Regions from separate parts of the Homo sapiens genome. Here region 2 is linked to region 1. Evidence: fine-mapped expression QTL. A gene starts in region 1. The other region holds a variant in brackets. All regions are shown on one strand. Distances are from middle to middle. Region 1 holds the start of CD300LB (CD300 molecule like family member b). Region 2 has its middle 24 kb from the start of CD300LB.

Evidence for each region.
Region 2: its variant is fine-mapped to the expression of CD300LB in whole blood (TOPMed, PIP above 0.99).

The regions. Positions count from the first base shown.
Region 1 is chr17:74,524,305-74,539,756 of GRCh38, reverse strand. It overlaps CD300LB (CD300 molecule like family member b), which reads left to right and starts at 8,282. Exons shown (of 4, transcript NM_174892.4): 1 at 8,282-8,446; 2 at 13,680-14,009. The coding sequence starts at 8,407. It overlaps LOC107985074 (a long non-coding RNA gene), which reads right to left. Exons shown (of 3, transcript XR_007065902.1): 2 at 7,116-7,210; 3 at 4,878-5,082. It also overlaps a transcript of CD300C not described here. RefSeq lists enhancers at 280-780, 11,163-11,232.
Region 2 is chr17:74,499,272-74,514,723 of GRCh38, reverse strand. No RefSeq gene overlaps it. Among named protein-coding and RNA genes, the nearest start is that of CD300LB, 24 kb to the left of the region's middle. RefSeq lists an enhancer at 2,008-2,257. The variant C/T (reference allele first, on the strand shown) is at 8,500.

The sequences.
Region 1 (15,452 bases):
GAACACGCAGGCAAACCTGTCAGCTGGAGGCAGGCAGAGGAGTGGGAGGTTGAGGGTCTGGACAAAGACCCGAGTCGGGAGGGTGGCAGCACCGAGGTGAACCTGGAGCCAGGAGGTTGGAGCCACTTGCCGGGTGATAGGGGCTGCCAGGACCTGTGTGCAGAGGCCAGGTCAGGTGGGTGCCATCCTGTGACAGCAGGAGCCATTGGGAGTTCAGCAGTGCCTCCCCAGGGCCGTGTGTGTGTGTCAGGGGTCACATTGCTCATTGTGGGGAGAATGAAAGGGATGAGTAAGAGCAGAAGGGGAGACCAGGTCAGGTCCCCGTGGCAGGGCCAGCTACTGCCAAGCTGGGTCAAGGTCAGACCTGAACACTGGGCAGGTGGGAAGGCCCGGGATTGCATTGGGCTGGCGACAGTCCCATGATGTGAGTCGGGGGCATCAGCACCAATGACTGCAGTGCACACTGTCCCTGAGAGTGTAAATGAAGGGAGGGCTGGGCAGGACAAGGGTGCAGTGACCCCTTCATGGTGCCAGGTCCACCAAGATTCCCCTGTCACTCTCCGCTCGGCCTCTGGTGCTATTGGGCATGATAGGAAGAAAGGAACGGAAATCTGTAAGAGGGTTGGGAGAGTCAAGGAATATGCTTAAGGCATGAGAAGGTGGAGAAGGGGTGATGCCCTCCGGGACAGACAGGAGGCAAATCCTGTATCTGACTAGCCTCCTTGCCCTTTCCAGGGTAAAGACACCCTGAGCCCATCATGTCAGGAGAACCAGCCATTCTGAGTGTGGACAGACCTGGGTTCCCGCCTCCTGGGAAGGCCTGTCCAACATGTCTGTTCCCTGGGAGGCACCTGGCCATCACAGTGGACCCAGGACAGACACTAGCAGCCGCCGCTCAACAACCATAAATTTTACAGATAGATGTTTGCAGCCACAGGGCAGGTGCCAGTTTATCTGTGAAGAGGACTAGACAGGGCTCCTGCCTTTGTGGGAAATGCCATCTGGAGAGGAGCAGGCATTCGACAGATATCCAGGTTATTGATTCCTGCACCTCTGAAGAGTCTGCTCCTGCACACAAAGGGCTTTGGTAGAGATTCTTGTGGATTCAGGTCCTACCAGGTCCCTGGGTGTCCCCTCACATTGCTGCTATCGCCCTGCCCTGCCTCAGCCCACAGCCCTGAATCTCAAGGCAATTCTTAGGGTGATAATTAGAGGCCATTGGTCTTATGTATCTGGCTGCTATGTCCAGGTTAGTTCTTGATTTTTGTGCCCACAGTACCTTGGCACTGGAGATAGGGGCAAGGTGGAGGGCACCAGGTCTTCCCCTGGGGAGGTAACTCACTGCCTGTCACCGTGTCCCCACAGGTCCCTCCTCAGCAGTCTCCACATCCTGCTCCTGATCCTCCTGGAGCTTCCCCTGCTCCTAAACAAGCTGGGGGCTGTCCTGTGGGTGAACAGGGCTCAGAGAAGCTCGGTGGGGAGGCAGAGTCAGCTGGATTGTGAGAAACAGTAACTCTGATGCCCATCAATACCGCGCCAAGCAACATACTCCCTCTTACATATGGGAATGGCCTTCTGACCAACAAATCCATGTTTCTATCAGAAGATTTGGAGGCTTTTTTCTTGTGATGTATCAGACACACAAAAGAATACATGCACTTTACACCAAGAATACTCTTTAACCTGTGTGTGCCCACCATCCAGTTTAAGTAATAGAACATCATTCATACTCATGAAGCCCCAAACCGCTTGCTGATCTTATGCAATTTCTTTTCTATCCTTCTCTCAGAAAACCACATCCTACATTTTATTTTATTGTATCTTTTTTTATAGAGATGGGTCTTACTATGTTACCCAGGCTGGATTTGAACTCCTGGGCTCAAGCCTTGGTCCTGTCTCAGCCTCTGGAGCAGCTGGGACTACAGGCATGCACCACAGCACCTGGCTCACATTCCGATTGTTATGTTCATCATCATCTTGTTTTAAGGGATTTGCCACATACATGCATATGGATTTCCAAAGGGTATGTTGTTTAGCTTTGTTTATTTTTGAACTTTCTGTGAATAGTATTAGGCATTTTTATTTCTAAGCAATCAGACTTTATCTTTCAACACTTTTTTTTTTTTTTGAGATGGAGTCTCACTCTTTCACCCAGGCTGGAGTGCAGTGGTGCGATCTCGGCTCACTGTAACCTCTGCCTCCCAGGTTCAAGCGATTCTCCCACCTCTGCCTCCTGAGTAGCTGGGACTACAGGCATGTGCCACCATGTCCGGCTAAATTTTTGTATTTTTAGTAGAGAGGGGTTTTACCATCTCCTGACCTCGTGATCCATCCGCCTCAGCCTCCGAAAGTGCTGGGATTACAGGTGTGAGCCACAGTGCCTGGACCATTCAACACTTTATTTTTGAGATTCATCCATGTTGATGTGTTGACGCACTGATGTGTCACTTCTTTGTATTGGTCTACATTCTGTTGTATGAGCATACCATAACTCGCACATCCCTCTTTCTTAAACAGGCATTTAGGTTGTTTCTTTTCTTTCTCTTTTTTGTGCTCTTCTTATTTTCCTCCTTCTCTTTCTCTATCCTTTCTCTCTCGTCTTCCCCTTCCTCTTCCTCCTCCTCTTGTCCCTCCTTTCTCCTCTTTCTACTCTTTTCTGCCTACTCTTCTGCCTACTTCTCCTCCTCCTCCTCCTTTTCTTCTTTTTTCTTTTCCTCCCTCTTTTTTTCCTCCTCTTCCTCCTGCTCTTCCTACCTCTTGGTCCTCCTCCTCTTCTTTTTTCTCTTCCTCCTCCTCCTTTTCTTCCTTCTCTTCTTTTTGTGTTGCCATTACTTATAACGTTATTATGAACATATATCCTAATTTTGTCTGTCCAAAAGTGTCTCCTAGAGTAGAGTTCTAAGGGAATAATTGCTAGGTTTTGCTGCATGTGTGTAATCAGCTCTACTAGGCAAGCGCAAATTATTTTCCAAAGTAACTGCACCAATTTTTGCTTCTTATCAGCAGTGCTCCTGCTTGAATCTTATCAGACTTTCTAAATTTGTTCAAGTTAATGGGTATGAAATGGTATCTCATTGTTTTAATTTGAATTTCTCTGCTTACTAATGTTAAACTCATGCTCATGTGTTTTTTGGTTATCTGAATTTTCTCTTTTGAGAAATGCCTCTTCTAATCTTCATCTACTTTCTGTTGTTTGTCTGTGTTCTTTTTTTTTTTTTTTTTTTGAGACGGAGTCTCGCTCTGTTGCCCAGGCTGGAGTGCAGTGGCGTGATCTCGGCTCACTGCAAGCTCCGCCTCCTGGGTTCATGCCATTCTCCTGCCTCAGCCTCCCGAGTAGCTGGGATTATAGGCGCCCACCACCACGTCCTGCTAATTTTTTGAATTTTTAGTAGAGACGGGGTTTCACCATGTTAGCCAGGATGGTCTCGATCTCCTGACCTCATGATCCAATTGGTAGAAGTTCTTTGCAAGTCTTTTGTTAGTTACTGGTGCTCCACATATACTTTCCTGGGCTATTGGCTTTATGATATCTTTTGAGAAACAGGATTTTCACTTTAATGTACAAATTATTCATTTTCCTTAATGGTTTATACTTTCATCTTGCTTAACCAATTATGGATACTCCCAAATTAAAAAAAAATTATCCTATATCTTCTTCTAAAATTTTTTAAATATTCCCTTTCACAGGTAAGTCCTTGACCCATTTCTAAATGATTTTGTTTCTAGGCTGAGATAATAATCCATTTTTCTGTCTTCCATTTGGATAAGCATTATCCACATTTTCCCAGCAATCTGCAATGCAACCCCTGGCAGGTGTTTATTTCTATGTCTGCTTGGACCTTTTTCTAACCACTCTATTATGTTGAATTTGCCTAATTGCTTATTTTGGAACCAAGACAACATTGTTTTAATTACTATAGCTGTATTTAAATGTCTTGTTATCTGGTAAGTCATGTCACTATACATTGTTCTTTGATATTGGGAATGTCTTTGCAAATATTGGCCATTTCCTCTTCTGCAGAAATTTTAGAATTAACCAGTCAACGTACTAAAAAAGAAAAAAAATTATGTTGAGACTTTAAATGTAAATGTATGAAATTTATCTTTATAATAATTTCTCTGTCTATGAACATGGTATGTAATTCTAATTATTTATGAGCTTTTAAAATGTCTTTTAATAACATTCTATTATTTTCTCCTTGATATTTGCTCATATATTTGTTAAGTGTAATTCTGGATATTTTATGTTTTTATTCTTATTTTGTGGCTTTTTTTTTTTTTTTTTTTGAGACAGAGTTTTGCTCTTATTGCCCAGGCTAGAGTGCAGTGGTGCAATCTCGGCTCACTGCAACCTCCGCCTTCTGGTTTCAAGTGATTCTCCTGCCTCAGCCTCCCAAGTTGCTGGGATTACAGGTGCCTGCCACCATGCCCAGTTAATTTTTTTGTATTTTTAGTGAAGACGGGGTTTCACCATGTTGGTCAGGCTGGTCTTGAACTGATGACCTCGTGATCCATCTGCCTCAGCCTCCCAAAGTGCTGGGATTACAGGCATGAGCCACCGCGCCCCGCCCCATTTTGTGGCATCTTTTATTGCATTTTCAAGTTATTCATTGCATGCATGTAGATAAACAATTGATCCTTACTGATTATATATATTTAGCAACTCTGCAAAAAATCTTAGTAATTGTTTTCAGTTTTATATGTAGATAATCAATTAATCTAGAATAATTTAGAGCTTTGTTTTTCTTTCTAATTCTCATGTCTTTTGTTTCTCTTTCTTGTTGTATTGTGCAGGCTAATCAAAGTGTTGAATCAAAGTAGTGATTTTGAGCAATCTTGTCCTCTTCCTGATTCTAAAGGAAAGATTTTGCCATGGGTTGTAATGGGTTGCTTATAGGCACCTTTTAATTCCTAGTTTATCATGAAAAGTAATGGATTTCAGATAGTGGTTTTTGTGCGTTTACATGATTATGTGGGTTTTCTTCTTTATTCTATTAATGTGATTCATTATATTAATTTTTTTAGATGAAGCCTCATTCTGTCACCCAGGTTGGAGTGCAGAGAAGACGATCTGTTACCCATCTAGAAAGAGAAGTGAGAATAAAAGCATTATTTTAGTCTCCTTCCTTTCAGTATGTGATCCAGGATGGAGAACACAGTAGGGGGCGTTCCCCCAACTATTTTCTTTCCCTGGTTCCTGGATCCTGGCACCCATTTAAATGTGCTGGCCATGACTGCAGGCGTGACCCTCCAAGCCATGGCACCAGAGAAACTAGACTTCTGGGCCCACTTACACTTCCACAAGCACCTTAGTCTTTTATTTCTTTTTGACCTCCTGTGTGACCTGTGTGCTTCCCTAAAAAACAAAACAAAAAAACAACGATTTTAAGAAAAACTACGGGCCAGGTGTGGTGACTTATGTCTGTAATTCTAGCACTTTGGGAGGGCAAGGTGGGTGGATCACCTGAGGTCAGGAGTTCAAGACCAGCCTGGCCAACATGGTGAAACCCTGTCTCCACTAAAAATACAAAAATTAGCCACACATGGTAGCGGGCACCTGTAATTCCAGCAACTTGGGAGGATGAGGCAGGAGAATCACTTGAACCCGGGAGGTGGAGGTTGCAGTGAGCTGAGATCATACCACTGCAATCCAGCCTGGGTGGCAAGAGCAAGACTCCATCTCAAAAAAAAAAAAAAAAAAAAAAAAAAGGAAAGAAAAGAAAAGAAAAAAAAAGAAAAACTACATAATTGGGCAAAGCCTCTTTAAGGGAGGGGGCGTGCTAGATTGAACTTTATATCTTGCTATTATTATGGCCTGTGCTAAAGCATTTACCCTTAGAAAAATGGTTCTGGTTAACTTCTGGACTTAAAAATCCCCTTACTAATTAAGTACCATCTTAATCGGAGACAGAATAGGTGCCTTAAAGGAATGTAGGAACCGAATGGCCATTTTCCTGCCAATGGGACAATATTGAGACTAAAATTTGGCTATGGAAGACTTCTTAACTCCTAACTGCTAAAGGCAGAACTTTCCCATTTCAAGAAGAGGCCTAGAGCCTGATTTCTTTTTCTTTTTTCTTTTCTTGTTCTTTCTTTCTCTCTCTCTCTCTCTTTCCTTTTCTTTTCTTTTCTTTTTTTTGAGACCGAGTCTTGCTCTGTTGCCCAGGCTGGAGTGCAGTGGCGCGATCTCGGCTCACTGCAAGCTCTGCCTGCCGGGTTCACGCCATTCTCCTGCCTCAGCCTCCCGAGTAGCTGGGACTACAGGCGCCCGCCACCACGCCTGGCTAATTTTTTTTTGTATTTTTAGTAGAGACGGGGTTTCACTGTGTTAGCCAGGATGGTCTCGATCTCCCGACCTCATGATCTGCCCGCCTCGGCCTCCCAAAGTGCTGGGATTACAGGCATGAGCCACCGCGCCTGGCCGAGCCTGATTTCTAATCATGCAAAAAGAAGCTGCGGTTTGCCATGAAAAAATATGCTTTATGTAGAGGATTTCTATTTCTACTAGGTGGCACTGTTGGCTTAGAAATACTATGTGCTCACTAGAGACGTGGTAGTGAGTAACCTCACGGTGGGAGAAAGGGGAGAACTCTGTTCCTAGAAGATTGCAAGGGCATCTTCCTGATTTTGCCTAACAGGATTACTTTCCTAGGCTGTAAAACTCGCTACACATTTCACACAAAGAAAGTGTAAGAGACCGCAGATAGAGAAGGAAGGAGAGTTTTGTGACAAGATAGTTGAGGATTCTTTGCCAACACCCAGAATGGGCCGCCAGAGGCTGGGTCCAGTCCAGGGGCCTTTGAATCATGCCAGGGTGTGCTCTGGCCAGAAATTGTTAGTTGCCTTAGAACTTTTCCCAGCCTTGCACAATGGCGAGGTCTTCCCGTGAAAAGAAGCTGATTTAAAACATGGCCAACATTCCCAATGACCCAGGGGTGTTGGGGGGTTCTCCGTGTTCTCAGCAGCAAGCCTCACATTCGAGTCTTCAGTATGGCAGCCAACACTAAGTGTATGTACCCGGCTGACGGATGCCCATTGACTTATTTTATTTTAAAATAGAGGCTAAGAGTGCCTCGGAATGATAGAAGAGATTTTAAGCTCACTCCCATACTTACCACTCCGATGAGTGTCGTACCTTGGATTCCCGGCCAATGCAACAAAATGGTATGGCTCTGATGACTGGAGGAACACTAGGGTCCTTGGTCTCCCACTGGTTTGAATAAAACAACATGGGCACACGTGGAGTGGTTTTAAGGAGTGGAGAATTTAATAGACAAGAAAGAAGGAAGGAAGAGGCTCCCCCTGTTCTGAGACTGAGGGAGGCGGGCTCCAAGCTGAAAGAGGGAACCTCGAGTACGGTGGAAAACAGCCAGTTATATGAGGAGGCTGGAGGAGGCGGTACCTGATTTGCATAGGGCCCAGGGGATTGGTTTGACCAGGTATGTCATTCAAGTAGCCCACGAAAAAACTAGCCTTCCTACCCTAGCCTTTTAATATGCAAATACAGGCGCCATGATGTTCTACACACATGGGTGTATGTAGGGGCGGCCATGTTGCCAGGAACGTGGGGAAAAGAAGAAGAGGCGGGAGTCTCCATGTTTGGGTGGACGCAGTTTCTAATGGCCTGTATTTGCATATCAAAGCTTGCCTGCCCAGCTCTAAGAGCCAGGGCTTTTCTTCTAGACAAGAAACATTTATGGAGCTGCTTTAAAAGAAAAAAAAATCTTCCCAAGCACCCCTTTTCCTATCTACCTAAAATAATTTCTTAATAACTCCTATAACAACAACAAACATTATGAGCCCAGTTAATAGATACAATAACTGAGGCACAGAGATGTTGATTGCATTGTCCACAGTCACGCAGCTTGTAGGTGGTGCTCGTGGGGTTAGAGCCAGGTCTGTCTGACCCAACAGTCTGCATGTTTATGCACTTGGCTATAACACCTGAACAAATGCATGTTCAGGTGTGCCCAGCATGACCCATCCGACATCTGAGTTGGGTGTTCACTGTGGTATAGAACAGCTCTGAAATTGACTCCCAGAGTGTTATACCCCTTGGACCCAAGGCCTGCTAGGCCAGACGCCCCCCACCCCACCCCTTCTGCAGACGTATCTCCCCCTACCCTAAAGACCCTGCACAGTCCCCTCCCTCCTCTTTTTTACATAGTGACGATGCTTAAGCCCTGTGGCGCAGCCCTGCCAAAAAATGACACCTCTTTCGTTTAATAATTAAAAGCAGGAACTACCCACTCTATAAAAGGAAGTGAATGAGTAAGAAAGTCAAAGGCGGTCTAGATGTGCAGAAGGTGCAAGCCAGAGCTCAGGCAGAACTTCCAGAGTGCATCTGGGATCTGCATTTGCCACTGGTTGCAGATCAGGCGGACGAGGAGCCGGGAAGGCAGAGCCATGTGGCTGCCCCCTGCTCTGCTCCTTCTCAGCCTCTCAGGTGAGTGGGGCTGGGGCCTTGGGCGCTTGGTATGACAGGGGCAGGGCAGGAGGCAGAGGGCATTTGTCCTTCCACATCCAGGGAAATGAGAGGTGGCTTTGTGAAGTCATTCGACAAAGGTGCACTGGGGACTGACATCGTGTGCTTCGGGGCCTGAGGACATCAAGAAAAAAGAGGAGGAGAACTGGCCATTAAAGAAGACTCCAGGCTTGAGGCCATGGCTCACACCTATAATCCTAACACTTTGGGAGGCCAAGGTGGGAGGATTGCTTGAGTCCAGGCGTTTAAGACCAGTTTGGGCAACATGGTGAGACCTCGTCTCTATATAAAATGAACAAAAATTAGCTGGGCGTGGTGACCGTGCCTGTAGTCCCAGCTACTTGGGAGGCTGAAGCTGGAGGATCCTTTGAGCTCAGGTATTCAATTCTGCAGAGTTATGATCGCACCACAGCACTCCAGCCTGGGTGATACAGTGGGACCTTGTCTCAAAAAAAAAATAAAGTAAAAAGACTCCAGATGGCTTAGTGGGTGAGACATACACATAAACAATGAGCAATTGCAGGACACAATAAGGCATTGGTGGAGGCGTGTGCGGAGGATGAAGCAGTTCTCTCTGGTGACTAGAGAAAGACTCACGAAGCTGTGCACTTGATGTGCCTTGTAGAAGGAAGGTCAGTCTCTGGAGCAGAGCTGAGAGGAGAACACTCTAGAGAGTTGGGTGTGTGTGTGTGTGTGTGTGTGTGTGTGTGTGTGTGTGTGTTGGGGGACCTGGGCAGAGAGATGGAGGCTTAGAAAGAATGGTGGATTCATGCAGAGGGAGCTGTCAGTGTGCAGGATGTCTTGGAGGTGGCGAGTTGGATATGAGGTTGGAAACACAAAAGACAAGATTATGAAGGCCATCCACGCCAGGCTCAGGAGCTGAGACTTTCAAAGAAAAAACTTCTCAAGAACCCAGGTGGAAAGTGGGAAGGGCTAGATGATCTTCTCCATGGCAAACCTTGGTGGACACCTAGAGGGCATTAGGGGACAATCTAGAATTTTACGCAGGGTGTGCAATGTGTGTGGGCCACACAGTTTTCTGCTGGTGCCTAGGGACTGACCATCTGGCACAGATAGAGCAGTCCACGGAGGGACAACAGGAAAGAGCATGGCTGGGGAGTTCTGAGACCCGACTCCAGTCCTGGCTGGACTTCCACCCTTCAGCCCGTTCAACGGGGCTCTGCTCCAAGCTGACGGCTGCCCTGTCATTTCCATCTCTATCGTTCCTCATACCAACTCTTGACAACATATAGAAGCCTGATTAATAGTTCCAGCCATCATATTCTGTGGTTAGAGAAACCCCCAAATATTTTTTTAAACGGGACTAATTACATCGTGAGCCATTTACAGTTTGAATGACTGAAGCTGGGATTGATGACACTTTGTTCAATGCAGCAGCATCTCTTTTCTGCTGTTAGTGATTGCTGACAAATCCAATTTATGTTTTTGGGTATTTTGTTTTTGTTTTTGTTTTTTGTTTTTGAGACGGAGTTTCACTCTGTCACCCAGGTTGGAGTGCAGTGGTGCAACCTTGGCTCACTGCAACCTCCGCCTCCCAGGTTCGAGTGATTCTTCTGCCTCAGTCTCCCAAGAAGCTGGGATTAAGGTGCCTGCCACCATGCCTGGCTAATTTTTGTAATTTTAGTAGAGACAGGATTTCACCATGTTGGTGAGGTTGGTCTTGAACTCCTGACCTCAGGTGATCCACCCACCTTGGCCTCCCAAAGTGCGGGAATACAGGCATGAGCCACCGTGCCCGGCCCCGAAAAGACTTTTAGATGCTCAGGGCAAGTGCAGCTGATGAGGAGGAGGAGACAGTCTCAGTACCCAACTCAGGCAGCAGTATGGAGAGGAAAGCTGAGGGAGCTGTCAGTGTGCAGGACATCTTGGGGGTGGCGAGTTGGATATGAGGTTGGAAACACAAAAGACAAGATTATGAAGGCCATAATCCTCAGGAGAGGAGAGTTGGGGAGGATGCTGCTGGGGCTGGGAAGACCTCTCCAGATGCCACTGCCATGATCCAGGCACAGATGAAGTTCTGACCTGTTGATGAGCTGTCACTGACAGAGCAAACCCCAAATGTCTGGCGTTGGACATACATCCAAGTCTTCTTTTAAATTTAAAAATAAATAATTTTTTGAAGACAGTGTCTCACTCTGTCACCCAGGCTGAAGTGCAGTGGTGGGCGATTATAACTCACTGCAGCCTTGAACTCTCAGGCTCAGGCGATCCTCCCACCTCAGCCCCCCAAGCAGTGGGGACCACAGGCATGCACCACCACTCCTGGCTAATCTTTTGCATTTGCAGACACAGGGTTTCACCATGTTGCCCAGGTTAGTCTGGAACTCCTGGGCTCAAGCGATCCTCCTGCCTCAGCCTCCCACAGCTTTGGAATTACAGGCATGAGCCACCTTGCCCAGCCTACACACATCCAAGTCCTATTACCACCTTCAAAGTAGAGCGTAGCATGACTGTCTTATGAATAAGGAAGCGATACTTGCAGAGGTTAAGCAACTCTGCCAGGGTTTCCCAACTAGTTCAGTGTCAAGTCTTTCTGCATCAAAGCTCACACTCTCTCTGATGTCATGCTGTCCTTGTGGCCTGCGATGGCAGAGACTGAAAGAAGAAAAAAAAAAACTGAGGAGCATCTCTAGGATAGAGCTGACTAAACTGGCTACCAATCAGCTCGGGGGCTGAAGGAGAGGACAGCATGAAAGAAGATGCCAAGCTCTTCCTGAAGGCTGGGTGGTGGAGCTGCTGGTTTGAAGAGAATCAAGTTGGTTCTGCTGATTGAATGCCATGTGAATTTCCAGTGGCTGCTGTAACAAATTAACATGAACTCTATGGCTTAGAACTGCACAATTTCATCATCTCATTGATGCTTCTGAAGACCAGAGCCTGGCGTGGTCTTACTGGTTAAAATTGAGGTGCAAGTAGGGTTGGGTTTCTTTAGAGCAGTGGTCCCCAACCTTTTTGGCACCAGGATCCGGTTTTGTGGAAGACAATTTTTCCACATCAGGAGTGGGGTGAGGATGGTTTGGGATGATTCAAACGCATTACACTTATTGTATACTTTATATTACTATTATATTATAATATATAATGAAATGATTATACACTGCACCATAATGTAGAATCAGTGGGAGCCCTAAGCTTGTTTACCTGCAACTAGATGATCCCATCTGGGGGTGATGGGAGACAGTGACACATCATCAGGCATTAGAGTCTCATAAAGTGTGTGCAATCTAGATCCCTCACACACGAAGTTCACAATAGGGTTCTCACTTCTATGAGAATCTAATGCGGCCGCTGGTCTGATGGGAGGCGGAGATCAGGTGGTAGTTTGAACAACGGGGAGTGGCTGTAAATACAGATGAAGCTTCGCTTGCTTGCCCACCGCTCACCTCCTGCTGTAAGGTCCGGTTCCTAACAGGCCATGGGCTGTTACTAGTCTGTTGTCCTGGGGTTGGGAACCCCTATTCTAGGGGAGAATCTGTTTCCCTGCATTTTCCAGCTTCTAGAAGCCATCTGCTTTCCTTGGCCGGTGGCCTCTTCTTCCACTTCAAAGCAGCAACAGACCATCTTCCAATTGGACTCTCCCTCAACCCTCTTTCACTTAGAATATCCATGGAGATTATTCGGGATATTCTTCCTGTCTCAAGGTCCTTAACTTCATCACATCGGCAGAGTCCCTCTGGCCATGTCAGGGGACATATTCGCAGGTTCTGTGTATGAGGATGCCAACAGCTATGGGGGACATTATTCTACCAACCACGAATGCAAAGTTCAAGAAAACTAACACAGCTTCAAGGAGAAGGCCCAAGCTGTGAGGAGGCGGCATCTGCCTGGAGAAATAGACCTGGCTTTCTCCACCCTGCAGAGACCCCTGGCCTGGGCCTGAAGCTCTGAGGCCAAGAGACAGTCAAGAGAGGCTTCCCCTGTGATTCTCTGCCTGTTTATCCACTTCTGCGTGATCAAGAAACCCGTGTCATTGCCAAGGAAAGAGCCTATCTACACACAGCCTAACTGGAGTCAATCAGCGGAGGCACGGACTGCCATTTGATTATGCTCACCTCTAACCTGTTCAGCTTTCACCAGGCCTTTGTTACTCTTGCCACATCCAATTGCTCCACTAGAAAAAAATACTGAAGAAGAGTAGTTCAGGGTGGGAGAGGAAGTGCATTCAATTCTGCAACGAAGGAATCTGGGGTGGAGACATCCAGTGTGTCTTTGTAAATGGTGGGCTAGCTAAGGGGAGTCTGAGCTGCAAATATGGATTTGGGAATCATCAGGAAACAGGTAATCATTAAAGCCATGGAAATGGAGAGACTCCCTCCATGGAGGCTTGTCAGGTGAGACAAGATGAAGGCTGGAGAGGGAACCCTGGGTACCCCCGCAGTGTGCTGGGGCTGGCTCACAGGAGCTGGCTTGGGACATCTTTTCCCAGCTCTGTGTCCAGTGACATCACATGGATTACCTGACATCTGCCACCGTGGGAGTATTTACACTATGGAATTTGGCAAATATTAAAACCAGATTTTTTTTCTTTTTCTTTTTCTAGACAAGAGTCTCACTCTGTTGCCTAGGCTGGAGTGCAGTGGTGCGATCTCAGCTCACTGCAACCTCCGCCTCCCGGGTTCAAGCAATTTTCATGCTTCAGCCTCCCGCATAGCTGAGACTACAGGTGACTGCCACCACGCCCAGCTAATTTTTGTATTTTTAGTAAAGACTGGGTTTCACCATGTTGGCCATGCAGGTCTCGAACTCCTGACCTCAGGTGATCTGCCCACCTTGGCTTCCCAAAGTGCTGGGATTACAAGTGTGAGCCACCGTGCCCAGCTCCTAAACCAGAGATTTTTTCCCCCAGAGGGCTGGTTGTTAAATATTTGGCTCCGATGAAAACAGCATTGAGAGGACAAGGAAAGAAGGTGGTAGGAGACCATGGTGTCACATGCTAAGCAGGTCTAGAAGCTGGTGGGGGAATGGACTGAGAGGGAGATGGGGATGAGGAATCGGGTGTGCTAGAGACACACTCGGGACTCTTAAACACCAAACTGGCTCAGGCAACAGGAGCTGTATCTTGGGATTTTGTTTTCCAGGCTGTTTCTCCATCCAAGGCCCAGAGTCCGTGAGAGCCCCAGAGCAGGGGTTCGTGCCGGTGCAATGAGCTGTATCTTGGGATTCTGTTTTCCAGGCTGTTTCTCCATCCAAGGCCCAGAGTCTGTGAGAGCCCCAGAGCAGGGGTCCCTGACGGTTCAATGCCACTATAAGCAAGGATGGGAGACCTACATTAAGTGGTGGTGCCGAGGGGTGCGCTGGGATACATGCAAGATCCTCATTGAAACCAGAGGGTCGGAGCAAGGAGAGAAGAGTGACCGTGTGTCCATCAAGGACAATCAGAAAGACCGCACGTTCACTGTGACCATGGAGGGGCTCAGGCGAGATGACGCAGATGTTTACTGGTGTGGGATTGAAAGAAGAGGACCTGACCTTGGGACTCAAGTGAAAGTGATCGTTGACCCAGGTAAGAACTTTCTCATCTACACAAGGAGGCCCTGGAGCTCAGGGCTGGGAAAGTCAGTGCTCTTACCTGCTCCCCTCCAAGGCTGAAAGGGAATGATGGTGAGCCTAAGAGAGAGAGAGAGAGAGACAGACAGACAGACAGGCAGACAAACTGACTGGGAAGGAGGTGACAGAAACTAAGGGAGAGTGGTGGCCAGCATCGCTCTGCTATCTCAGTCCCTGAGGTCTCTCCAAGGAATCCAGGTGGGGCTTGGGATGGGGGTGGGAATGGGGACCTCAGCTTTGGTGACTGGTGGCCCAGCCCTGCTCATGACATGGCAGAGAAGGAACCTAGAGCTGCCCAGGGGGTCCTAGTATTGAGTCCCACTAACTGCACCAACCCAGAGTAGCTCTGGGTGTCTTACAACACCCTCCTCTCTAGGTCCCCAGCCACCTGCTCCGCTACTTTATCTGGCTGTGTAAGATGAGCACGGGGTAAGAAAGCCCCAGGGAGGTGCATGGGTGACAGTGGACGCTTTAAAGCAAAAGGATGGCTTCCATCACGGGCAACGTCAGGGACCACTCTGGGTGCCCTGGCTTCTCCTCCATGCCTTGGACTCTACTGATAGACTCTGGGGTCATCCTGCTGCTGTTGCTGGAGTCTGGGAAGCAGCCCCCAACCCCCACTTCCACCCGCACACCCCTACTCAGTACTTCATCAGCTCAGTGTCCACTCGGGTCCATTTGGTGGTGATGTGGAAATAGACAATGCCGGCTTTAGAACAAGCCTGTGTACTGTTGGGGTTGGGACCAAAGAGGCACATGGACACAGTGGCTGCAGCTGAGTAAAGAGGAGTCCAGAAAGGGTCAAGCAAGACTTCCCCAGGGCTGCCAAGTAGGGGAAACCCAGAATATCTATGGGGGCAGAGAGGGGATTGAGCAAGACATGCAGGCGGTACAAAGAGACAAAAAACAGTGGCCAGTGTGGAGCTTTAGGGAGAGAGATGTTCCGGAGTCTTGGGTGGGGGATCTACAGGGGTACCAGCCTGTAAAACGATCAGGGGCTCCATAGGAACTGTTGTGATTGGAATTACCTGCAGCTCAGACAGGAGCCCACCTAGTGTGGCCAAAGCCTGGGACTTTTTTGTTTTGTTTTGTTTTATTTTGTTTTGTTTGTTTTTTGAGACAGGGTTTCAGTCTGTAGCCCAGGCTGGAGTGCAGTGGGGTGAACTTGACTCACTGCAGCCTCGACCTCCTGGGCTCAATCAATCCTTCCACTTCAGCTTCCTGAGTAGCTGGGACTACAGGGGCACATGACCACGCCTGGTTCATTTTGTATTTTTTGTAGAGATGGGATTTCACCATGTTGCCCAGGCTGGTTTCAAACTCCTGGCCTCAAGCGATCTGCCTCCCTTGGTCTTCCAAAGTGCTGGGATTACAGGCGTGAACCACCGTGCCTGGACAG
Region 2 (15,452 bases), 25 kb after region 1:
TCACATGACATCACCCATCACATGACCACCCATTACATGACAGCACCCATCACATGATCACCCATCACATGACATCCCTGTCACATGACATCACTCATCACATGATCACCTATCACATGACATCACCCATCACATGACATCACTCATCACATGATCACCCATCACATGACATCACCTGTCACATGACCACATGTCACATGGCATCACCCATCACATGACATCACCCATCACATGATCACCTGTCACATGATCACCTGTCACATGACATCACCCATGATATGACATCACCCATCACATGATCACTTGTCACATGATCACCCATCACATGACATCACCCATCACATGACATCACCCATCACATGATCGTCGATCACATGACATCACCTATCACATGACCACCCCCACATGACATCACCCATTACATATCACCCATCACATGACCACCCATCACATGACATCACCTGTCACATGATCACCCATCACATGACATCGCCCATCCCATCACCCATCACATGACATCACCCATCACATGACCACTCATCACAGGATCACCTTGTCACATGACCACCTGTCACATGGCATCACCCATCACATGACATAACCCATCACATGGCATCACCCATCACATGACATCACCCATCACATGACATCATGCATCACATGACATCACCCATCACATGACATCACACATCACATGACATCACCCATCACATGACATCACCCATCACATGACATCACCCATCACATGACATCAATGTCCCATAGATAAGCAGAACACTAAATTGATTCTGTAGAGTGAATATGGGATGGAAAAATCCAACTCTAATCATACCCTACTCACCAAGCAGGAAAGACATGCATAAGCTTCACCTGAAAGTCTTATTTTAGGGCATTGTTGTGTAATCCCAGCATTTTGGGAGGCTGAGGCAGGATGTTTGCTTGAGCCCAGGAATTTGAGACCAGCCTGTACTGGCAAGACCCCCCATCTCTATAAAACATTTAAAATAATAAATAAATAAATAAATAAATAAATAAATAAAAACAAAGGCTGTGATTCCAGGAGCAGAATATTTGGTAATGGAACATAAAGAAAGACAAAGGCCAGGCAGGCCATTCGAGGCATCAGTTCAAGTCCATGCCCATGAGCTGCCTCCTGCCTGCTCAGGCAACCTCCCAGGCAGCTGAAATCAGAAAAACAGATGAGGGTCACAAGCATTCAGCTTCCTGGAAAGGAGTGTCCCCAAAATAAATCACTTGAGTTATTGTAGGGTCTCAGTCTCTCTTCTTGTCTGGATGGTGGTCGGGTTCTAGATTTGCAGGAATGAGGACCAGACCCAGGTAAATTCACCAAAGTCGTATCCCAAGAGGAGATCTCCCAACCATGGCCTTTGCATCGTTTAACTCATCAACCTCAGAAGCACTGGGGGGATTGACCCAACCACATGAAACCAGGTTTCCATGGCCCATTTTAGAAGGTAGAATCATCCCCAGGGGCACAGGTAACATATGTCCATCTGCTGGGCCCCAAGCCCAGCACATTCTCCTTAACTCCCACCTCAATGTCACCACTTCATGTCCTCATTAAATCCCACAAGAGGGAGGTCAGAAAGAAGTTCTGAACTTTTTCTGACCTCCCTGCAGTGGGATGAATTTGAGACTCAACACAGGCAGTCGGGGGAGGGAAGAGGAACTTATATCATGAGTTGATAACAGCACTGCGTGACTTGTGCACTCGCCGCATTTTAAAGGCTGGCAGTACCCCATTTTCACAATGTCCATCTCATCTGTCCTCCCTGACAGCTCAGGGTGGTAGGCCAGGCTATTCTTGAGTCCACACTGGACAAGGCTGTAAATAGACTTGAGTCACCTTATTTGAGCTGAGTTCCTTTACCCGTGAAGTACCCTTTGAGTCATCCTTCGGGTACACCCCCTCACCAACCTAAACCTTAGTTTTTATAGCTGCAAGACGGATGGTGCATGACCTCTTCTTCCCCTTTCAGCCCCAACTTTCCATGACTCTGAGTCAGTTTCCATGACTCCCAGTTCAGGCCATTCTAGTCACCAACCAGGCTGGGCTGCCTCAGCCAGCACAAAATTTGAAGCTGGGGGGACTTGCTGCTTCAAAATATCTATAGAGAGTGGCTTTTTCTAAAGTCAACCTCTAAATCTCTGTCCCCAGGAGGAAGGATGTTCGCATTGACAAAGGGTGGAGGCAAGTATTGGGCCCAGTACTAGGGCCCCAGTGATAGGTCCACATTTGAGATAACAGGGAGGCCGGAAGCTCTGCCCTTAGCACACCTTCCTTGCCAGGTGGAAGCTCCCAATGTAGGCTTTGGAGGTCTGTTCCCTCAGGCACGTGGACTCAGGCTGTGCTTCATGCATTGGTCTGGAGCCTTGGAGCAGGCCTGGAAGAGGCTGTATCTCAGATTTGTGTTCTTCAGGATGTTTCTTACCCAGCATTTTGGACACTGAGCATCTGATTGTGAGGATGGAGTCCACACACTGAATGCGTGTGATTCTCTGGTGAGCAGTGTAACTTGAACTCCAGTGGAAGACTGCCAGGCCATGGAGGTGTTGGCAGCAGCCTGGGACTTCAGCTGAAATGTGACTCAGGCCACAGGGCCAGTCAGACAATTCAGGAAAACATGTCCTCAGCAAACAACCAAATAAGGCACCAGGGACCAATCCTGGAGAAACAGGGACCTTTCAGACAGAGAATTCAAAATAGCTGTTTTGAGGAAGCTCAGTGAAATCCAAGATAACTCAGAGAAGGAATTCAGAATCCTATCACATAAATTTAATGAAGAGATCAAAATAATAAAAAAGAATTAAGCAGAAATTCCAGAGCTGAAAAATGAAATAGACACACCAAAGAATGCATCAGAATCTCCTAACAGCAGAATTGACCAAGCCAAAGAAAGAATTACTGAGCTTGAAGACAGGTTATTTGAAAATACAGAGTCAGAGGAGACAAAAGAAAAAGAATGAGAAAGAATGAAACATGCCTATAAGATCTAGAAAATAGTCTCAAAAGGGCAAATCTAAGCGTTACTGGCCTTAAGAGAAGGTAGAGACAGATCAGGATAGAAAGTTTTATCAACGGGATAATTACAGAGAACTTCCCAAACCTAGATAAAGATATCAGTGTTCAAATACCAGAAGGTTCCAGAAACCAAGCAGATTTAACCCAAATAAGACTATCTCAAGACACTTAATAAAAAAACTCCCAAAAGTCAAGGATAAAAAAAAGGGTCCTAAAAACAGAAAGAGAAGAGAAATAAGTAACATAAAAGGGAGCTCCAAAACTTCTGGCAGTAGGCTTCTTGAGGGAAATCTTACAGGCTGGGAGAGAGTGGTATTTAAGTGTTGAAGGAAAAAACTTTTATCGTAGAATAGTATATCTAGTGAAAATACCCTTCAAACATGAAGGAGAAATACTTTCTCAGACAAACAAAAGTTGAGCAATTTTATCAACACTAGACCTGTCCTATAAGAAATGCTAAAGGGACTTGAGGTCAGGAGTTTGAGACCAACCTGGACAACATGGTGAAACCTGTCTCCACTAAAAATACAACAATTAGCAGGGCATGGTGGTGCATGACTGTAATCCCAGCTACTTGGGAGGCTGAGGCTCGAGAATCACTTGAACCCGGGAGGCAGAGTTTGCAGTGAGCTGAGATTGTGCCATGCACTCCAGCCTGGGTGACAGAGTGAGACTCTCCATCTTAAAACAAATAAATAAATAAAAATAAAAAAAGAAAGAAGTGCTAAAGGCTAAAGGGAGTTCTTCAATCTTAAAGAAAAGGATGTTAATGAGCAGTAAGAAATCATCTGAAGGTACAAATCTCACTATTAATAGTAAGTACACAGAAAAACAGATTCTAACCCCTGAAATTGTGTGTAAATCACTTATATCTTGAGTAGAAAGACTAAAAGAAGAACCTATAAAATATATAAAAAATAATAACTATGCTTTTTTTTTTTGAGATGGGGTCTTACTTTGTTGTCCAGGCCTGGAGTGTAGTGACATGACCTTGGCTCACTGCAACTTCTGCCTCCCTGGCTCAAGTGATCCTCCCACCTCAGCCTCCTGAGTAGCTGGGACTACAGGTGCACACCACTACACCCGGCTATTTTTTGTATTTTTAGGAGGGACAAGTTTTTGCCATGTTGCCCAGGCTGGTCTTGAACTCTTGGGCTCCAGTGATCTGCCCACCTTGGCTTCCAAAAGTGCTGAGATTACTGGTGTGAGCCACCGCACCCAGCCTAAAGCAACATTTAAGACATTGAGAGTATAATAAGGTATCAATAGAAACAACAAAAAATTAAAAAGTGGGGGGATGAAGTTCAAGTGTAGAGTTTTTTTCTATTAGCCTTATATTTGCTTGTTTGTTAGCTTGTTATTACAATCAGTGTTAAGTTGTCATCAGCTTAAAATAATGAGTTATAAGATATTATTTCCAAGCCTCATGGTAATATCAACTCAAAAACATACACATACAACAGATACACAAAAAATAAAAAGTAAGAAATTAATACATATCACCAGACAAAATCAGCTTCAGTAAAAAGAAGACAAGAAGAAAAGAAAGAAGGAAGGAAGAGAAGGCCAGAAAACAACCAGTAAACAAGTAACAAAAGGGCAGGAGTAGTCTTTAGTTATCAATAATAACATTGAATGTAAATGGACTAAACACTTCAGTCAAAAGACATGGAGCAGCTGAATGGATTAAAAAGAAAAACTAGACCCAAGATCTGTTGCCTACAAGAAACACACTTCACCTATAAAGACATAAATAGGTGAATTAAAGGAATCGAAAAAGATATTTCATGCAAATGGAAACCAAAAAAGAGTATGAATAGCTATACTTATATCACATTACATAGATTTTAAGACAAAACTATAAAAAGAGACAAAGAAGAACATTATATAATAATAAAGAAATCAATTCAACAAGAGGATATAGCAATTGTAAGTATATATGCACCCAACAGTGGAGCACTCAGATATATATTGCAAATATCTTTATAGCTAAAATAATATATCCTCAATACAATAATTGCTGGAGACTTCTACACTACACTTTCAGCATTGGACAGTGCATCCAGACAGAAAATCAACAAAGAAACGTTGGACTTAATCTGTACTATAGACCAAATGGACCTAATAGATATTTAAAAGAACATTTCATTCAGCAGCTGCAGATACACAGTCTTCTCCTCAGCACATGGATCATTCTCAAGGATAGACCATATGTTAGGCCACAAAACAGGTCTTGAAATATTCAAAATAATTGAAATCATATCAAGTGTCTTCAGTGACCACAAAGAATAAAACTAGAAATCAATAACAAGAAGAATTTTGAAAACTATACAAAACATGGAAATTAAACAATATGCCCCTGAATAACTAGTGGGTTAATGAAAAAAAGTAAGAAGGAAATTTAAAAATTTCTTGAAACAAATGAAAATGGAAACACAACACAATAAAATCTATGGGATACAGTGAAAGCAGTATTGAGTATCTACATCAAAAAAAGTAGAAAAACCTCAAATAAACAACCTAATGATGCATCTTAAAGAACTAGAAATGCAAGAGTGAAGCAAACCCAAAATTAGTAGAAATAAAGAAATAATAAAGATCAGGGCAGAAATAAATGAAATTGAAATGAAGAAAATGCAAATGCAAAAGATCAATGAAACTAAAATAAATGAAATGGAAATGAAGGAAATACAAAAGATCAATGAAACTAAAAGTCATTTTGTTGAAAAGATAAACAAAATTGGCAAGTCTTTAGCCTGACTAAAAAAGAAAAAAATAGAGAAGACCCAAATAAATAAAGTCAGAGATGAAAAAGGAGACATTACAATTGATATCAACAAATTAAAAGGATCATTAGAGGCTACTATGAGCAGCTATATGCCAATAAATTGGAAAACCTAGAAGTGGATACATTCCTAAACACATACAATCTACCAAGATTGAACCATGAAGAAATCCAAAACCTTAATAGACCAGTAACAAGTAACAGGATGCCATGACAAAAAGTCTCTGAGCAAAGAAAAGCCTGGGACTCAATGGCTTCCCTGTTGAATTTTACCAAACATTTAAAGAACTAATACCAATCCTACTCAAACTATTCTGGAAAATAGAGGATGAGGGAATACTTCCAAACTCATTCAACAAGGCCAGTATTACCCTGACACCCAAACCAGACAAAGTCATATCAAAAAAAAAAAAAAAAAAAAAAAAAACCAAAAGTACAGGCCAACATCTGTGATGAATACTGATGCAAAAATTCTCAGCAAAATGTTAGCAAAACAAATTCAACAACACATTGAAAACATCATTTATCATAACCAAGTGGGATTTATCCCAAGGATGCAAGTATGATTCAGCATATGCAAATCAGTGTGATACATCATATCAACAGAGTGAAGGACAAAAGCCACACAATCATTTCCATTGATGCTGAAGAGGTATTTGATAAAATTCCACATCCCTTCATGATTTAGAAAAACCCTCAAAAAACTGGGTATAGAAGGAAGATACCTCAACATAATAAAAGCCATATATGACAGACCCACAGTTAGTATCATACAGAATGGGCAAAAATTGAAATCCTTTACTCTAAGATCTGGAACAAGACAAGGATGCTCACTTTTACCACTGTTATTCAACATAGTACTGGAAGTCCTAGCTAGAGCAATTGGACAAGATAAATAAATAAAGGCATCTGAATTGGAAAGGAAGACGTCAAATTATCCTTGTTTGCAGATATGATCTTATATTTGGAAAAACCTAAAACTCCACCAAAAAGCTATTAGAACTGATCAACACATTCAGTAAAGTTGCAGGACACAAAATCAACACACAAAAATCATTTGCATTTCTGTATGCCAACAATGAACAACCTGAAAAAGAAATCAAGAAAGTAATCTCATTTACAATAGCTATAAATAAAATAAAATACCTAGGAATAAATGTGAAGAAGTGAACGATCTCTACAATGAAAACTCTAAAGCACTGATGCAAGAAATTGAAGAGGATACAAAAAAATGGAAAGATATTCCATGTTAATGCATTGAAAGAACCAACATCGCTAAAATGTCCATACTACCCAAAGTAATCTACAGATTCAATGCAATTCCTATAAAAATATTAGACATTTTTCACAGAAATAGAATAAATAATTCTAATGTTTATATGGAACCACAAAATACCCAGAATAGCAAAAGTCAACCAGAGCAAAAAGAACAAAACTGGAGAAATCACATTACCTGACTTCAAATTATACTACAGAGATATGGTAACCACAACAGCATGGTACTGGCATGAAAACACACATAGAACAATGGAACAGAATGAAGAACCCAAGAATAAATCTACATATCTACACTAAGCTCATTTTTGACAAAAGTGCCAAGAACATTCACTGGGGAAAGGACAGTCTCCTCAGTAAATCATGCTGGGAAAATGGTATATCCATATGCAGAAGAATGAAACCAGACCCTTCTGTTTTTCACCATATACAAAATGGATTAAAGAGGCCGGGTGTGGTGGCTCATGCCTGTAATCCCAACACTTTAGGAGGCCAAGGCAGGCAGATCACCTGAACTCATGAGTTCAAGGCCAGCCTGGACAACATGGCAAAACCCCATCTAAAACAAACAAACAAAAAAAACCCCAAAAAACAGCTGGGCATGGTGTATGTGCCTGTAGTCCCAGGAACTGGGGAGACTGAGGTGGGAGGATGGCTTGAGCCTGGGAGATAGAGGTTGCAGTGAACTGAGATCATGGTACTGTACTGCAGACAGGGCGATAAAGCCAGACCTTGTCTCACAAAAAAAAGGGGGTGGGGATTAAATACTTAAATCTAAGATCTCAAACTGTGAAACTACTAAAAGAAAATACTGAGGAAATTCTCCAGAACATTGGACTTGGAAAATATTTCTTGAGTAATACTCCACAAGCACAGGCAACCTAAGCAAAAATGGGCAAATGGGATCACATCAAGTTAAAAAGCTTCTGTACAGCAAAAGAAACAATCACCAAAATGAAGCAACAATCCACAGAATGGGAGAAAATATTTGCAAACACCCATTTGACAAGGGATTAATAACCAGAATATGTAAGGAGCCCAAATAACACAGTAGGAAAAAATATAATAATCTAATTAAAAAATGGGCAAAAGATCTGATAGACATCTTTCAAAGAAGATCTACAAAAGGCAAACAGGTATATGAAAACGTGCTCAACATCATTGATCATCAGAGAAATGCAACTCAAAACTCAATGAGATTGTCACACACGTCCATGTGAAGAGACCACCAAACAGGCTTTGTGTGAGCAACAAGGTTGTTTATTTCATCTGGATGCAGGCAGGCTGAGTCCAAAAAATGAGTCAGCAAAGGGTGGTGGGATTATCATTAGTTCTTACAGGTTTGGGATAGGCATAAAAAGTACATTCTCAAGGGCGGGGAGAATATTACAAAGTA[C/T]CTTCTTAAGGGCAGGGGAGAATATAGCGTATCAGTTAGGGTGGGGCAGGAACAAATCACAATGGTGGAATGTCATCAGTTAAGGCTATTTTCACTTCTTTTGTGGATCTTCAGTTGCTTCAGGCCATCTGGATGTATATGTGCAGGTCACAGGGGACATGATGGCTTAGCTTGGGCTCAGAGGCCTGACATTCCTGTCTTCTTATATTAATAAGAAAAACAAAACAAAATAGTGGTGAAGTGTTGGGGTGGCGAAAATTTTGGGGGGTAGTATGGAGAGATAATGGGCGATGTTTCTCAGGGATGCTTAGAGTGGGATTAGGGGCAGCATGGGAACCTAGAGTGGGAGAGATTAAACTGAAGAAAGATTTTGGGGTAAGGGGTGATATTGTGGGGTTGTTAGAAGTAGGATTTGTTGCACAGAATGATTGGTGATGGACTGTATGTGTTTTGTATGAATTGAGAAGCTAAATGGAAGACACAAGGTCCGAATAAAAGAAGGAGAAAAATAGGTATTAAAGAACTAAGAATTGGGAGTACCCAGGACATCCAATTAGACAGTGTCCAAGGGGGATCAACGCAATTATTTGCTTGGTTAGTGAGTTTTTGGGCTCTATCCTTGAGTTTTTTTATGTTGTCATATACCAGGCCAGACTGATTTAGGTAAAAACAACACTGTTCATTTAAAAATATACAGAGTCCCCCTTTTTTTAGCAGTGAGTAAGTCGGGGCCTCATTGATTTTGGAGGAAAGAGAAATGTAAAGCCAGCAATTGTTTGTTAAAGAAGGATTAGAAACAGCTAGGAGAGAGTGAGTGAGATTGATAGTGTGGTGGAGATAGCTGCGAAGAGGTAGAGAGGGTGGCATAAGAACGGGAACAAGAATAAGAGTGAGTATAAAAGTAAAGAACAGGACTTCATAAGGGTGAGAGTATTGGAGTGTGTCCTGTCAGCAAAGATCATCTACCCACTCCAAGAGGGAGTCAAGAGTGGTGGATTGGGGATAGATTTTCACAATGGAAAGGAAATGAGAGTTTTTAAGAGGCGGGCTAATGGCTTGTAACCTACATGGAAGAGGTTATGAAATGACGACAGGAATAGAATGGGCTAGTGAGGCTTGAAGGAGATTTTTTTTTTGTCTAAAAACCATCTGCCTTGAGTGGAGAGGGATTGATAGGTGGAAACTTCAGTGGGACAGTAAATAGGAGTGACCAATGAGGAGAAAAACTGGCCATCAGGGACAGAAGTTGGAAAACTAGCTGCCTCTTTAGCTACCTTATCAGCATAAGAGTTGCCCTGAGCAATGGGATCTGATGCCTTTTGATGGCCCTTGCAGCGAATGACTCCAGCTTCCTTTGAAAGTAAAGCAGCTTTAAGAAGAGGTTTTATTAAGGACACATTAATAATGGAGGACTCTTGTGTAGTGAGGAAATTTCTTTCTGCCCATGTAACAGCATGGTGGTGCAGGATATGGAAGGCATATTTAGAGTCAGTATAAATATTGACGCGTAGTCCCTTTGCAAGAGTGAGGGCCTGAGTTAAGGCAATGAGTTCGCCTTGCTGAGAGGGAGTGGAGCAGGGCAGAGCAGTAGCCTCAATGATAGATGTGGAAGATACTATAGCATAGCCTGCCTTTGCTGATGAGTGGTGATTAGGCCTGGTGGAACTGCCATCAATAAACCAAGTGTGATCAGGGTGAGGAATAGGAAAGAAGGAAAGATGGGGAAATGGAATAAATGTCAGGTGGATCAGAGAGATAGAGTCATGGGGGTCAGGTGTGGTATCCAGAATAATGTGGGAGGCTGGATTGAAGTCTGGGCCAGGAACAATGGTAACTGTGGGAGACTCAACAAAGAGTGAGTATAGCCAAAGGAGCCGGAGGGCAGAAAGTATATGCATCAGGTGGGAGGAAGAAAATAGATTTTGGAAGTTATGAGAACTGTACGGAGTGAGTTGAGCATAGTTTGTGATTTTGAGGGCCTCTAAAATATTAAAGCAGTGGCAGCCGCTGCACGCAGACATGAGGGCTAGGCTAAAACAGTAAGGTCAAGTTGTTTGGACAGAAAGACTACAGGGCGTGGTTCCAGCTCTTGTGTAAGAATTCCGACCACACAGTCCTGTACTTCAGCTGTGTGTAATGAAAAGGGTTGGGATGAGTTTTTTAAGGAATGGAAAGAGGAGTGGGGAAAGGATTTAGGATCTATGGGGTCAGCTACATTTATCTAGAACAGAATAATGGGTTGTGGAGGGAGGTATTGAGGATAGGAGAGTATATGGGTTTGGCATCACGGTGTGGATAGGCAAGACAATTTGGTTGATAAGGTGCAGATCCTGAACTAACCTGTAAGACTTTTCCGGGTTTTGGACAGGTAAAATGGAGGAATTGCAAGGAGAGTTTATAGGCTTTAGAAGGCCATGCTGTAGCAGGCCAGTGATAACAGGCTTTAATCCTTTTAAAGTGTGCTGTGGGATGGGATACTGGTGTTGAGCGGGGTAAGGGTGATTAGGTTTTAATGGAATGGTAAGGGGTGCATGATCGGTCACCAAGGAGGGAGTAGAGGTGTCCTATACTTGTGGATTAAGGTAGGGAGACACAAGGGGATGATGCGAAGGAGGATTTAAACTGGGGAAAAGGGCAGCAATGAGGTGTGGCTATAGCCCAGGAATAGTCAGGGAAGCAGACAATTTAGTTAAAATGCCTCACCTAATAAGGGAACTGGGCAGGTGGGGATAACTAAAAAGGAGTGCATAAAAGAATGTTGTCCAAGTTGGCACCAGAGTTGGGGAGCTTTAAGAGGTTTAGAAGCCTGGTCGTCAATAGCCACAACAGTTATGGAGGCAAGGGAAACAGGCCCTCGAAAAGAAGGTAATGTGGAGTGGGTAGCCTCCGTATTGATTAAGAAGGGGATGGGCTTACCCTCCAATGTAAGAGTTACCCAAAGCGTCTGTGATGGTCCAGAATGCTCCCGAGGCACCTCATAAATATATACACCTACTATGACCCAGAAAAACTAAAAATAAAAAAAGCTAAAAAAATCAAGGGTCTCACTAACAGGCTCATTTTAACTAAAAGGGGGCAGCAAGGTGGACTTTTGAGCTAAGCAGTGTTGTGGTCAAATACTGAGTGAGTCACTTAACCTTCTCCCTTCGCTTCTGATCCAGCACAGTGGCGCCTAGGACTATGCATGGGACACGAGGGGTTACTCAATCAGTGATGTAGAGACAGCTGGCTAAGTCTTATACAAACTCAAGTTCTGTTCATACCGCACTCTGTAAGCCAAAATAGTTTCAAATGGATCAAAGATTTAAATACGAAGAAACTACACAAGTTTTAGAATAAACTGAAATCTTTCTAAAGTCTTAGACTATTTAAAAGTTTTAGAATAAACTGAAAACTGCAAGTTTTAGAATAAACTGAAAATATAAAATGAAATTTACAAAAGTTTTAGAATAATGGGTGAATTTATTAGACTCTTGAAATGGAGCATCCTAAGGAAAACTCAAACTTTATAAAGCAAATGATTGAGAAATCTGACCTCAGAAAAAAGATGAAACATCACTGGGTGAAAACACCTTTGAAAGTTTTTTAAAAAATGACAAGCTATGAAGGAAATGTTGCAGGCAATTTGACAGAGAGCTTATTTTCTTAATTTACAAAGCACTCGGAGGAACTCAGTAAGATAGATTAAAAGCTCAATGGCAAAATGGGCAAATGGATAGTTCACAGGAAAAAAACTAAAATGGCAAATAAAGGAATGCAAATTCTGAAAATTATAAGATATTATTTTCTTCTATCAGATTGAAAAGAAAATAGAGTGTGAAAATATCCAATACTGGCGAGAGTGTAGGGAAAGGGACATCGTTGAGTGTTCTTGATGGGAAGGTAAGTGGGTGTAAGGTACATGGATGTGCTTTGGTCAAGAATAGGTTAGCCAGGTGCGGTGGCTCACGCCTGCAATCCTAACACTTTGGGAGGCTGAGGCGGGTGGATCACCAGAGGTCAGGTGTTTGAGACCAGCCTGGCCAACATGGTGAAACCCCATCTCTACTATAAATACAAAAAAAAAAAAAAAATAGCTGGGTGTGGTGGCTCGGGAGGCTGAGGCAGGAGAATCGCTTGAACCTGGGAGGCGGAGGTTACAGTAAGCCGAGATTGCACCATTGCACTCCAGCCTGGGCGACAGAGCGAAACTCCGTCTCAAAAAACAAAAACAAAAACAAAAACAAAACAGGCAGAGGCAAACATCAGGGCCAGCGTGACTCAGGGAGTCTGGCGCGCAGGCGCATAACTCCACTTGTTATGTAATCTGTTTGTGTAAGTGGCTCAGAGCCACTATTGTCTGTAAAAGGTATAACTGCCCTGCTGACGCTGTACATGTGGTTCGGCATGGCTTGTGCCCAGAGGCAGAGAGTAAAACTGCTGACCCCATAAGGGAGAGCCAGGCTTGTAGGCCAGGGAATGCAGCTGTAAGCCTGGGAATGGCAAGAGCCGCAAAGCTGGAGCAGGCAGCCGAGATAAAGGTGAATTGTATGAGAAAGCTTCTGATGAAACTATCACAAGGACAGAAAACCAAACACCGAATGTTCTCACTCATAGGTAGGAATCGAACAATGAGAACACTTGGACACAGGGTGGGGAACATCACACACCGGGGCCTGTCAAGGGGTGGGGGGCTGGGGGAGGGATAGCATTAGGAGAAATACCTAGTGTAAATGACGAGCTGATGGGTGCAGCAAACCAACATGGCACATATATACCTATGTAACAAACCTGCACATTGTACACATGTACCCTAGAACTTAAAGTATATAAAAAAAACTGCTGATGAAAAAGCTGCTGAATAAAACCATATTTTACCTGCCTACAGCCCCCTAAATATTCCTTCCGCTATTCGCCACCCATCCACCCACTCCCCTCAGACCTCAACATGGGCTGGAACCTGACGCTTGGCATGACAGTGGGCAAGAGCTTTTTGAAGGAAAATTTGTCAAGATCTATTAAAAAAAAGTCAATTCATGGACCTTTTGACTAATGCTCCACTATTGGAAATTTCTCCTAAAGATATACTCAGATAGGCCAGGCGTGGTGGCTCACGCCTGTAATCCCAGCACTTTGGGAGGCTGAAGTGGGCAGATCACGAGGTCAGGAGATCGAGACCAGCCTGGCCAACACGGTGAAACCCCATCTCTACTAAAAATACAAAAATTAGCTGGGTGTGGTGGTGCACGCCTGTAGTCCCAGCTACTTGGGAGGCTGAGGCAGAAGAATCGCTTGAACCCGGGAGACAGAGGTTGCAGTGAGCCAAGATCACACCACTGCACTCCAGCCTGGGCAACAGAGCAAGACTCTGTCTCAAAAAAAAAAAAAAAAAAAAAAAAAAAAGATATACTCAGATATATACCAAGATACAGGTACAAAAATACAAAAACATGGTCTGGGATGACATAACAATGTGTGCATCTGTGCATGTGTATACACACGCAGTCATACATGGGGCCTTGTATGACACACAGATACATCGGCATGCATTGTGCACCTACAGCTCCAGTCCCTCCCCCAGCGCCTGACTCATACAGCCAATAGGGGGCTTGTCATCTTTATTTGAGCATCTGTACGCCCAACAGAGTCCCTGTTTCCTCTCCCCAATTCCACCCCAAAACTGCTGCTCTCTTAGTCTTTCCATTTCCGTAAAGGGACCCACCTTTACTGCCCTCCCAATTGCTCAAGTGAAAACCGTAGAAGTCACCTGCAATTTTTATTCCTTTCTTTTCACTCCCTCCCACATCCAATCCTTCAGCCTGTTGGGTTGGCTCTACGGCCAGAATGCATTCTGAGCTTGTCCACCTTCTCCAATGGCCACATCCACCACCCCATTCCAAGGTGCCATTGTGTGACTCCCTTGCTTGAAATTTTTCAGAGTTTCCACTTAGGACAAAATCCACACATTTGCGTATTAACCCTTCCCTGATCTGACCACTGCCTGCCTCTGCCTTTCTGCGTCTGCCTCCCACCAAGCTCCCCACATTGTCTACTCTGTACTCATCTGGCCGGCACCCTAAGCCTGGGACACACTAGCCTTGTTCCCCCTTAGAGCCTTTGCCTGAGCTGTTTCCTCTGCCAGGAATGCTCTCACTCTATATTATTGTGTGGCTGGCTCCTTCTCAAGTCTCAGCTCAAATGTCAGGAAGTCCCTCCATGACCTCCCTATGCAAGCAGCCCTTCCTGCCTCTCATCACTCTCAGCTGTACACAATTCAGATCTTCACACAGCAGTTCTGTGATGATCTGAACGAAGCTTGCTTTTGTTTTGTTTGTTCTGTCTACTGCCCACTAAGATACAAGGACCAGACAGAAGGGGCCTCATTTATCTTCTTCACTGCTATGTCTCTGCTGTATAGCTCCATGGTATATAGTAGGTATTCAATAAAAGTCATCAAGTAAATGAGTAAATAACGGAATGAATTAAAACTGTGGAATCACATATAAAAGAATGAGGTAGATTTGTGTGTACTTGTATAACAAGGTCTCTAGGACATATGCAAAAGTGAGGTATGAAGAATTATGAGCCCCTCCCCCCACTTTTTTTGGAGATGGAGTCTTGCTGTGTCGCCCATGCTGGAGTGCAGTGGCGCGATCTTGACTCGCTGCAACCTCTGCCTCCTGAGCTCAAGCGATTCTCCTTCCTCAGCCTCCCAAGTAGCTGGGATTACAGGTGTGTGTCACCACACTTGGCTAATTTTGTATTTTTAGTAGAGACAGGGTTTCACCAAGTTGGCCAGGCTGGTCTTGAACTCCTGACCTCAGGTGATCCGCCTGCCTCGGCCTCCCAAAGTGCTGGGATTACAAATGTGAACCACTGCGCCTGGATTAGCCCTTTTGAAAATAATTTTGAAATAATAATAAGTTTTCTGAAAGCTGTGTAAGAAATGGCTAACAGTAGTCACTTTTGTGGAA